Linked DNA regions of Homo sapiens: region 1 is linked to region 2. Evidence: fine-mapped expression QTL. Tissue or cell type: cerebellar hemisphere. Region 2 holds a variant in brackets; the other region holds the start of a gene. All regions are shown on one strand. Distances are from middle to middle.

Region 1 (5,370 bases), 36 kb before region 2:
GGAGGGGAAGACACAGTGCAACGTCAAGGAAATGAGGGACAGCCCTCATTTCAGAGCTCAGCATGGGCTGGAGTCATACTGAAAACCAGACGATAACCACCATTCCAAAACTCTGCACCACTAGGAAGAACCCCCATCCCTGACTTCTTCCTCCCTTCCACTGCAGCATATATCTTCAGCCCAGCCTCATACCTGCTGCCGCTGGTATTCTGCCTCACTGGCTGACAGTGCTTGTGCTAAAGCTAGGTCTTCTTCCTCCTGACAACTGGGAGGGAGAAACAGTTTAAGTTGGATGATGGTAAGATCTGAAATTTGAACATCTGATCTGTGTGTGTTGGGCCTCATGGTGCTGAGCACTGCTGAGGATTATCTCAATCTTCATAGCAACACTACAAGGTGGGTATTAGTATTGTCCCCGTTTTATAGAGGAAATGAAGGCTCCATGGGTTAAATAACTTGTCAAAGATCATATAGTTCATCTTAATTTTGAGACCAAGTTGCCAGCGATTATCTTGCATTGTGTCAGAGTGGTCCCACCTACCTGCCTCCAGACCAAGCCCTTGCCCACAGCTTGCGCTCTCTTTCACAAGAGGGTAAGGTACCTTGGAACCTGGGGTTTGGTTTCTGCCAGGGACATTTCCAGGGCCCGCTGCAGAGCTTCATCCTCACTCTACAAAGGGAGAAAGAAGACCAGCGTCCTTGGACTTCACTCTCTGTGTGTTTGTTTCTGTCCATCCAACCTCTGCCCAACTCACCAGGCCATTCTGCAAAGCAATCACTGGAGGGGCTGTCCAGGACGGAGATCGGGTTGTGGCTCTACGACAGACATTGAAGAGGTGGAGGTCAGAGGTGTGAAGGGGAAAAAGGGGGAGCAGGGAAACGGGCAGGCCTACCTGCTGGGAGAGGTACAGGAAGGCATGGTTTGACTTGGGCTGGGGACAGTGCTTGTAGAAGCCACAGCTTGTGCTCTGGAGATGGCAGCAAGTCTGTAGGGAAGAGAGATTTTTGGCATGTCTCCAAGAACTAGCCTTACCCAGGAAGTCAGGAGGGGAGTTCTGGAAAAACATGCACTTGAAAAGGAAGCTAAAAGACTCCCCTAGCCGACAGGGTAGGGTTGAAGCTCCCCAATTTATAACAACAGAGCTTGAGTCAGTTCCAAAAGAATGCTTCCCAAAAGCAAGTGGAGGACTTGGCTGCCATTACCCTGCCCGGCTGGTTGGGTGCCCCTCCCCAGAGCAATCATGGTCCAGTGGATGCCGGTGCTTGATGCAGAAGTTTCGGCTACAGCGTTCACAGGTCAGTTTCATCATTTCTCGCTGCCGGCAGCCAGCGCGTTCACACTTATTGGTGAAGATCTGAGGTGAAGTGAGAAGGTTGTCTCTGCTGAGACTCTGATTAGCTGTTTGGGTTTCCAGGCATCCGTAGTCCCAGCTGGGTTGTGGCTGACCCCTACAATGTTTACCTTACGTTTTTGCTGTGCTGGATCAGAGCGACAGTCTCTGTCAATGTGCTCTCCCACAGCACGGTCAGGGGGCTCCCCTCTGGCCACAGGCACAGGCACATTACAGAGAGGGCACACAGGTACCTGGATATCCTGTAGTCAAGGAGCAAGGGTCAGTCTGTGGCCCACTCCAGTCCAACAAATCTCTGGTCCTGAAAGAACTTGGATATGACCCACCACAAACACGCAAAAAAACAGTGTTTCCCAGCACTGACAGCCTCAGAAGGACAAAAGGGAGAAGAAACGTGAGACACAGATTTGGGGGATTCTGCACGCATTCTCCATCTGCCTGCTTTCACCCTGAGGATCGCCCCCTCACCTTTTGGTAAGCAGATCCACAGTGATGCTGGGCGTAGGCCACATGGTCTGCGCAGAAGATGCCTGAGCAGGCATCACACTTAAGCGGCAGAAAATCTGCAAAGAGTTGGTCGGATTGCAGGTCCAGCGGGACCTCGATGTCCTTCTCTCTCACTCAAGTCTTCCACTCGGGAAGGAAAACGCCACCCTATTTTCGACACACCGCCCCTTCCCAAGCCCATTACCTCCTTGGCCACGCCCCCTCTGCCGCTGACCACCCCCCCCCAGCTTCAAGCCCCGCCCCCCGGCATTGCCAGCCTGGGAGCCCACCCTTCCCTCCCAACCTGCGGTTCAAAGTCCCTGTCCGCTGGGCCCCGCCCCCCGCGCGCTCCGCCCCTCACCCAAGCGCTGACAGCTCGGCTCCGAACAGTGAGCGCCGAGGTCCGGAAACTCCATCGCCAAGCCGGGCAGGGTCTGCTAGGAGAAGCGACGAGTGCTGAGCGTCTTTAGGGCTCGTGCTCGAAGTCCGCACCGCGACCCCGCACTCTGGCGGGCTCCCTGCCCCGCCCCTTCCTCTCCCCCGCCCAGCCCGGGTTACCGGAGCCCCCGCGCCAGCCGGCCCCCGGCGCCCGCTCCTCCCTCGGCGCGCGCGGCGCGCTGACGTCATCCCGCAGGGCTGGCGCGTCCGGCGCAGTCTCCGGGCAGCCGGGGAGGGCCTCGGTTGAGCCCCGCCCCGCCTCGCCTTGCTCTAGAAGGCTGAGTCGGAAGACTGTCCCGAGGCGAGAGGGTGTTGATGCGCGGCTCCGCCACCCTGGGCGCGGGCGTAGCTCCGCAGAGGAAGGCCAGCGAAGGCAAAGACGGATATCTTGGGGGATGGAAGGCTGGGTGGTTTGGGGTCTTTCACAATTCGGTCCTTAGCCCGCTTCACACACGATGCCCTCCTCCTGGCCATTTTGTTCACGGCCACGGCTGCCCTTCGCCTCCACGAGCTGACAGCTCCTGTATTTCTCTGAAGTACAGACGTCTCTAGAGCTGCAGATCCCTCCTCAGTCTGAACTAGGCGCACCTGCTATGTGATCTTACTTCTTCCATTCTAGCACCCATATCACTAATGCGACCAACCCCTATATGAGCATACTGGGAAATCAGGAACCACGTCTACCTTGTTTCGTGTTAGGTCCCAGCACCTAACAGTGCCTAGAACAGTGTGGTCCTCAGTCTTTAGTGTGAATCCAAATCGCCTACGGAGCTAGTTTAAAATGCGGATTTCCGGGCCCTGGAGCTTCTAATTCAGTAGGAAGCACCTGAAGGAATTCTGACACAGATTGCCATGCACCACACTCTGAAAAACCCTAGCCTAGAATATTCTTAGTAATTATTGAATGTAGCCAGGACTACAGGCACAAGCCACCGTGCTCAGCTAATTTTTAATTTTGTAGAAATGGGGTTGGGGAGGGGTCTCTCTTTGTTGCCCAGATTGGTCTCGAACTCCTGGCCTTAAGTGATCCTCCTGCCTTGGCCTCCCAAAGTGCTGGGATTACAGACGTGAGCCACCACACCTGACCAATATAATTTTTTTTTTTTTGAGACACAGTGTCACTCTTGTCACCCAGGCTGGAGTGCAGTGGCATGATCTCGGCTCACTGCAACCTCTGCTTCCCGGGTTCAAGCGATTCTCCTGCCTCAGCCTCCCAAGTAGTTGGGACTACAGGTGCACACCACTGCGTCCAGCTAATTTTTGTATTTTTAGAGACGGCGTTTCACCATGTTGCCCAGGCTGGTCTCGAACTCCTGACCTCGTGATCTGCCCGCCTCGGCCTCCCAAAGTGCTGGGATTACAGGCATGAGCCACCACTCCCAGCCAATATTCTTTTTATTTTAAATTGCATCCAGGACTTTATAAATGCTTTTATTTTGTTTCAATATATAACTGTCAGATTTCAAATAATTTTTTCCCAGTCTCATTATAATCATTTGGTTCTAAGAATTTTGTTTATTCATTTTTTTTCCTCTCTATATTCATCAGTACAATTTAGAATTGTAGGCTTCCAGTCCCGGCATGGTGGCTGACGCTTGTAATTTCAGCACTTTGGGAGGCTGACGCAGGAGGATCGCTTGAGCCTAGGAGTTCCAGCCTGGGCAACATAGTGAGACCCTGTCTCTACAAAAATAGAAAGAATTGTAGGCTTTCAGTTTGGAGAAACGTGTATGGAGCAGACTAAACAAAGATAAACACTGCCTCTCTCCCCACTCCCACTTTACAAATGCTCAGATAACCAAAGCCTTGTGGAACTCAAAAAATAAAAATCTTCGGATCTCATTTTTGAGCATGAGCCAGAATGCTTGAAGTGCAAATGTAGTCATTTGTTCTTATGTTGCTATACAGAAATACCTCGCTAGGCATGGTGGCTCATGCCTGTAATCCCATCCCTCGGAGGCCAAGGTGGGAGGGTCACTCGAGTCCAGGAGTTTGAGACCAGCCTGGGCAACATAGTAAGACCTCCCTCTCTACAAAAAAAATTTTTAAAAAGTTAGCTGGGCATGGTGGCATCCACCCGTTGTCCCAAATACTCGAGAGGCTTTGGTGGGAGGATTGCTTGAGCCTAGGAGCTCGAAGTTGCAGTGAGCTATGATTGTACCACTGTGCTTCAGCTGGATAACAAAGTGAGACCCTGTCTTTAAAAAAAAAAAAAAATCTGAGGCTGGTTGATTTATAAAGAAAGAGGTTTAATTTATTCATGGTTCTGCAGACTGCATAGGAAGCATGGTGCCAGCATCTGCTCAGCTTCTGGTGAGGCCTCAGGAAGCTTCTAATCATTGCAGAAGGCCTAGGGGGAACAGGCATGTCACATGGCAAGAGTGGGAGCAAGAGAGAGAAGAGGGAGGTCCCAGAGTCTTTTCAAAACCAGATCTGATGTGAACTGAGTGAGAATTCACTCATCACCAAGAGGATGGCACTAAGCCATTCATGAGGGGTCCACTCTCAGGTTCCAATCACCTCCTGCCAGGTCCCACCTCTGACATTGGGAATACATTTCTTTTTCTTTTCTTTTTTTTTTTTTTTTTTTCTTTTTTGAGACAGAATCTCACTCTGTCGCCCAGGCTGGAGTGCAGTGGCACAGTCTCAGCTCACTGCAACCTCCGCCTCCCGGGTTCATACCATTCTCCTGCCTCAGCCTCCCAAGTAGCTAGGATTACAGGCGCATGCCACCACGCCCGGCTAATTTTTTGTATTTTTAGGAGAGATGGGGTTTCACCGTGTTAGCCAGGATGGTCTCGATCTCCTGACCTCGTGATCCGCCCGCCTCGGCCTCCCAAAGTGCTGGAATTACAGGCATGAGCCACTGCGCCCGGCGGGAATACATTTCAACATGAGATTTGGAGGGGACACATATCCAGACCATATCATGCCATAACAGACTTACCTCAGAGACCCCAGCGACCACGATAAAAGTGAATGAAGCTCTCACGGTAGTATCTCTCTTCCCAGGCAAATATTTTTCTGACTGATGGGTTATAGTCCTGACTAAGCTCTCTGTGCTGATTACCAGCCCAGGGGCTTTCTCACTGGG
Region 2 (5,370 bases):
TCGCTAATGTCTCCAGCTGCCTGGAAGGCAGCATGGGGCTGCGGTCACTCTGGGGCAGTCTTCTGGCCTCACTGACTCCTCCACCATTGCCTCCCCCAGACCCCCCTGCCCCTCCCACTCTTCTTCATAACTGCCACCTTTGCCAGAAGCTCCAGAGAGACTCCCCAACCTGCCATGCCTGCCTCCACCCCAACCGTACAGTCCCCACTGCGCTGTCCAGCCCCTGGTACCATACCTATGGCCTGGCTCCCCCCTGGCCTTGGAGCCCGGTGCTCCTTTCACTTCCTCAGCCTCAGCAATGTTCCCTTTTCAGTGTCATGGAGCTGGCTCGCCTCAAGTCTTTCGTTTTCCCAGGCTAGGTAGGGCTGTGAGGAATGCATTAAGAGGGTTTGGGAGTTTCTGAGAACCTGGAGGAGCAAAGCTTGATTCAGATCCTGTCTGCCTCGCTGGGTCCTTGGCAGGTCCCCTGTCCTCCTGGGTGGGAGCTTATGGGGTGGTGGGGCAGAAGGACTGAAGGTAATTCACTCCTAGATCGCAGTGGCTGGCTGCTTGGCCAGGACAGTGATGCCGCCAGGGAGAGCTTCCGCTTGGTGACCAGGGACATGTCCCAGATGGACATAGAAGCCCCTCTCTGCCTCCCTGGGATTTTTTAGACTTTTACTTTTGATTTCCCTAGGATGGAAGAGTATAGGTGGGAGATAAGGGAAGTGGGGTGAGAGGAGAAAGGAAATGTTGGCATGGGCCTGTGTGATGTCCCTGAGGCAGAAGAGCCGGGGACTGATGGGTTCAGGTGGGAGCTGCTGGGTGAGGCAGGGAACCCTTTTCACTCCCATTCCTTAGCTTTAGTCTAATGGAGCCAAGGACTGCTGGGACCTTCAACCCTGATCTTTTGTCTTCCAGTCTTCTCTTAGTGTCCTGCTCCTAGGTTTCCCTCTCTTCTGGTTCTTCTCCCAGGTATTCTCTTCCCAGGCCTCTCTGGCCACTGCTTTGTATCAGGGTTTTTCACGCTTTTGTAGAACTGAGGTTTCAATAAACAGTTTCAGTTGCATGGCCTGGACTTTTCCTTCTGCGGCAGCCCTTGAAGATTTTTCCTCCCTGTATCTGCCTTCCAAGCCTCCCTGCTTCCTGATCCTGTCATCTCACAAACTGTTTTCTCAGCCTCATCTCAGGACTTTCCTATCGTTTGATAGGCATAGGCTTCCATTTCCAACTTTGTTCCTGCTCCCAGGACCCTGGGCCCTAGCACTGCTCAACTTGGGATGCCATGGGACACACATGGTGACTGTCCTGTCCCTGAGTTGGCCTTGTCTGTCACTTGTTCTGGGTAAGCACTCTCCTTGTGGATCCCAAAGCACATCTCGTGGAGAGGGGCCAGGCCTTGTAACCAGCAGAGCCTTGTGAGCTCCTGAGGGCAAGCCACGAGGACGCTTCTCTCTCCTGACCTCCTCACTGGTCTGACACATGGTGATGGTCACATGGTGCTTAACAATTCCAAGAACTTGAAGAACTCCAAGGCTGGGTCATCACTGGAGGAAGGAAAACAGTCTGGGCAGCTTGGCTGAGGGTATTTGGGACTGCTGAGGATACTTCACGGAAGAAGTGGTTCTGCCCCCTAGGGGGCATTTTGGAAATTTATGGGCTATTTTTTCATTGTCAAAAGGATTCAAGGGGATGGGGTGCTACTGGCATTTCGTCAACCTGGGCGGGATGCTAGACATCATGAAATGCTCAGACCTCCCGTACTGTGAAGAATTCCCAAGACAACTTTTGAATGACCAGCTTTATGTATATGAAAACCCTGTTTATCTGAGCCTAGAACTGTCTTTGCACATGTAAACGTGAAATAGCGTTTGTGCGTTTTGAAAAGACTCAGTTTGCTAGGAATTCATTCCCATGTAAATTAAGACGACTTTATTTTGCTTGGCACCTTAACCAAGAGTTTGTTTGCCATTTTGAAAATCGGGTTACCAACATCAGAGTCACCGATAAAGCACCAATATCAGCTGGCATTGCAGCTATTGCAACCACAGCAATTCTCATAGGGTGTGGGATTGGACTACTTCATTGTACTTTATTGTCTTCTGGTTTAGTTGTGCTTAAGCCTTCACGTAATGAAATACATGTTATTATAAATTTTATTCTTTACAGTGAGCATGTTTCAGGTAGTTGTGGTTGTCACATGTGATGTAGGATATATTGTCCACAAGTTTCTTTTTTTCTTTTTTCTTTTTTTTTTTGACACAGTCTCACTCTGTCACCCAGGCTGGAGTGCAGTGGCACGGTCTCAGCTCACTACAACCTCCGCCTTCTGGGTTCGAGCAATTCTTGTGCCTCAGCCTCCCGAGTAGGTGGGATTACAGGGATGTGCCACCACATCCAGCTAAGTTTTGTATTTTTAGTAGAGATGGTTTCACCATGTTGCCAGGCTGGTCTTGAACTCCTCACCTCAAGTGATACACCCAGTTCGGCCTCCCAAAGTGGTGTGATTACAGGCATGAGCCACCATACTGAGCCCACAAGTTTCATTTTGAAGTAGTCCAGGGGCCTT[G/T]GTTCTGAAAGGGGTGAGGACTGTGGATCAAATAGTGATAGTTTTAAATGGGAGGGAATAAAGTCTGCAAAATTTCCCCATATTATTTTGAAGAGCTCCTCTCCTCCCCACCCCTCCTATCCTACTTTCTACAGCCTGGTCTAGGGGCAGGAAATCTGGAAGAAGATTCTCGGGGGAGGGCCCCAGAACTCAGCTCCCCAGTTAATGGCTGATGGAATTTGCACAACAGCTGGGCAAAGGTGAAAGGGTGGTGCCCTGCCCCAAATTCCTTATACCTTTGCTCCGCTTCATTGACACCCCCACCCTCTCCCCACCTTCTCCCCACCCCAGGCTTCACCCAAACTCTGACCTCTTACTCTCTCTACTTAACTCTGGTCCCGGGCAGCCAAGACAAAGCGAAAGGCAAGGCAGCATGAGCCGATCACCCCTCAATCCCAGCCAACTCCGATCAGTGGGCTCCCAGGATGCCCTGGCCCCCTTGCCTCCACCTGCTCCCCAGAATCCCTCCACCCACTCTTGGGACCCTTTGTGTGGATCTCTGCCTTGGGGCCTCAGCTGTCTTCTGGCTCTGCAGGTAGGAGGCAGAGGTGCAGGAGTTGGTGCTGCCTGATGGTGTGTGTGGGGAAGTAGGTGTAGATGTGGCATGTGAAAGCCTCTGGAAGTATTGTAGGTATTTCCACTTCTCTGAAGACTGCCCTCCCCATTCCTCCACCTGCAGCATGTCTTGGTCATGGCTTCTCTGCTCTGTGTCTCCCACCTGCTCCTGCTTTGCAGTCTCTCCCCAGGAGGACTCTCTTACTCCCCTTCTCAGCTCCTGGCCTCCAGCTTCTTTTCATGTGGTATGTCTACCATCCTGCAAACTTGGATGGGCAGCAGGTGAGAGGAACCTCCCTGGAGAGAGGGGCAGAGTCCTGGAGGGTAGGAGAGGTTTGGGGGAGCCTTGCTGGCTGCCACATAGTCCCAGACCTGCTGGGGCTGCTGTTCCTACAGGCTGCCTCTTGTCCAGGCTCCATCCTTAGAGTTCCTTATCCCTGCTCTGGTGCTGACCAGCCAGAAGCTACCCCGGGCCATCCAGACACCTGGAAACTGTGAGCACAGAGCAAGGGCAAGGGGTAAGGGTGGGGCTGGGTTCTCATCTGAGCATGCAGGTGTAGGTGGGTGCAGAATTGAGATTGGGCAGTGGTGAGACTGTGACACTATAGGGGGCTTGGACCTGTGCCAGGAGTGGGACTGTAGAGCAATGGGTCTCCATTCCATTCACCCTTCTCTTCTCCATGCCCCAAACTTTTCCTAGCCTCCCTCATGCTGCACCTTTGTAGGGGACCTAGCTGCCATGGCCTGGGGCACTGGAACACTTCTCTCCAGGAGGTGGGTATCTGGAGGTGAGAAGGGATAAGGGTGGTGCCAGGCTTGGGGGGGGCTCTTGTTTCCATTATGCACAGACTGAGATGCTCCTGGAAAGGAGTTTTGGGAGGAACCCATACTTAGAATTAGGAAGACCAGGCTGAGGCCAGTTTGATTGAGCAGAATGTTTTCTCTCCATCCTCTCCTCTCTTCTACCAGGTGTCCGGGGCAGTGGTAGTATCTGGGCTGCTGCAGGGCATGATGGGGCTGCTGGGGAGTCCCGGCCACGTGTTCCCCCACTGTGGGCCCCTGGTGCTGGCTCCCAGCCTGGTTGTGGCAGGGCTCTCTGCCCACAGGGAGGTAGCCCAGTTCTGCTTCACACACTGGGGGTTGGCCTTGCTGTACGTGAGTCCTGAGAGGCGTGGGATGGTGCCCAGTGGGGGTGTATGGGGGGACTAGGGGAGGGCAGAACTGCTGGTCCTATCAGATTCAGCAGCGACTGGAATAGGGACATATTTTATATTTGGAATCCAAGACTTTTCCTTGATTCATCTGGTCTCCTTGAATTTCACACTGTTTTCTGCTGTCCCCCAAGGTCACTTCCTATTCCTTCCATGGGAGTTTCCTTCTCTGGTATCACCCCCCGCTCTTATGATATTCTGCCCACTCCCACCTCCTTTCCCATCCCTCAGGATACCCACTGCCTCTTGCTCCTAAAGCCTTCTGTCTCCTAGGGTTATCCTGCTCATGGTGGTCTGTTCTCAGCACCTGGGCTCCTGCCAGTTTCATGTGTGCCCCTGGAGGCGAGCTTCAACGTCATCAACTCACACTCCTCTCCCTGTCTTCCGGCTCCTTTCGGTATGTGTGGGTCTGGGCAGGGCAGTAGAGGTCAGAAGGGCTGGCCTGGAGTGCTCACTCCATCCCCTACCTTTTGGCTTCTGTCTACCCCTGCAAGGCTGGCTCAGAAGGTTCTGGGGGAGGAGTTCTTTTCTCAGTCTCGCCCCTCAGGTGCTGATCCCAGTGGCCTGTGTGTGGATTGTTTCTGCCTTTGTGGGATTCAGTGTTATCCCCCAGGAACTGTCTGCCCCCACCAAGGCACCATGGATTTGGCTGCCTCACCCAGGTAGGTTTTCTCCTAGTCCTCCATTCTCTTGTTCAAATAAAGGTATCTATTTGAACTCAAAGAACTTAATGGATTTTATTTCTGAGTTAAATCCTGTGTTTTTTGAAAACATATAGGAGAGAGAAATTATCAGTCTGAGAGACAGACAATGCTAGCCCCTCACTGTAGGTGTTTTTTTGTTTGTTTGTTTGAGACAGGGTCTCACTCTGTCATACAGGGTGGAGTGCATGGCGTGATCATGGCTCACGCAACCTCAACCTCCCAGGCCCAGGTGATCCTCCCACCTAAGCCTCCGGAGTAGCTGGGACTACAGGTGTGCTTTTTTTTTTTTTTTTTTTTTTGTAGAGACAGGGTT

Which allele goes with the higher level. Positions count from the first base shown, and alleles are read on the strand shown. Sizes are in standard deviations (SD) of each study's normalised expression.
As copies of T replace G in region 2, the expression in cerebellar hemisphere of the gene that starts at base 2,460 in region 1 goes down (small effect, 0.38 SD a copy in GTEx).

Evidence for each region. PIP is the estimated chance that this variant, and not a neighbour inherited with it, causes the effect.
Region 1: it holds the start of ZFAND2B, and the variant in region 2 is the best candidate, but not a certain one, in a credible set for the expression of ZFAND2B in cerebellar hemisphere (GTEx, PIP 0.88).

What each region holds. Positions count from the first base shown.
Region 1 is chr2:219,203,872-219,209,241 of GRCh38, reverse strand. It overlaps ZFAND2B (zinc finger AN1-type containing 2B), which reads right to left and starts at 2,460. Exons shown (of 9, transcript NM_138802.3): 1 at 2,200-2,460; 2 at 1,821-1,915; 3 at 1,463-1,594; 4 at 1,204-1,355; 5 at 894-986; 6 at 756-816; 7 at 603-670; 8 at 193-265. The coding sequence starts at 2,254. RefSeq lists enhancers at 1,002-1,501, 2,619-2,868 and a silencer at 2,169-2,568.
Region 2 is chr2:219,167,575-219,172,944 of GRCh38, reverse strand. It overlaps SLC23A3 (solute carrier family 23 member 3), which reads left to right and starts at 2,916. Exons shown (of 12, transcript NM_001144889.2): 1 at 2,916-3,122; 2 at 3,267-3,424; 3 at 3,539-3,636; 4 at 3,843-3,916; 5 at 4,112-4,293; 6 at 4,627-4,750; 7 at 4,901-5,015. The coding sequence starts at 2,961. CNPPD1 (cyclin Pas1/PHO80 domain containing 1) reads left to right here. Exons shown (of 8, transcript NM_015680.6): 8 at 1-1,048. The coding sequence ends at 359. RefSeq lists enhancers at 1,370-1,419, 1,470-1,629. The variant G/T (reference allele first, on the strand shown) is at 2,549.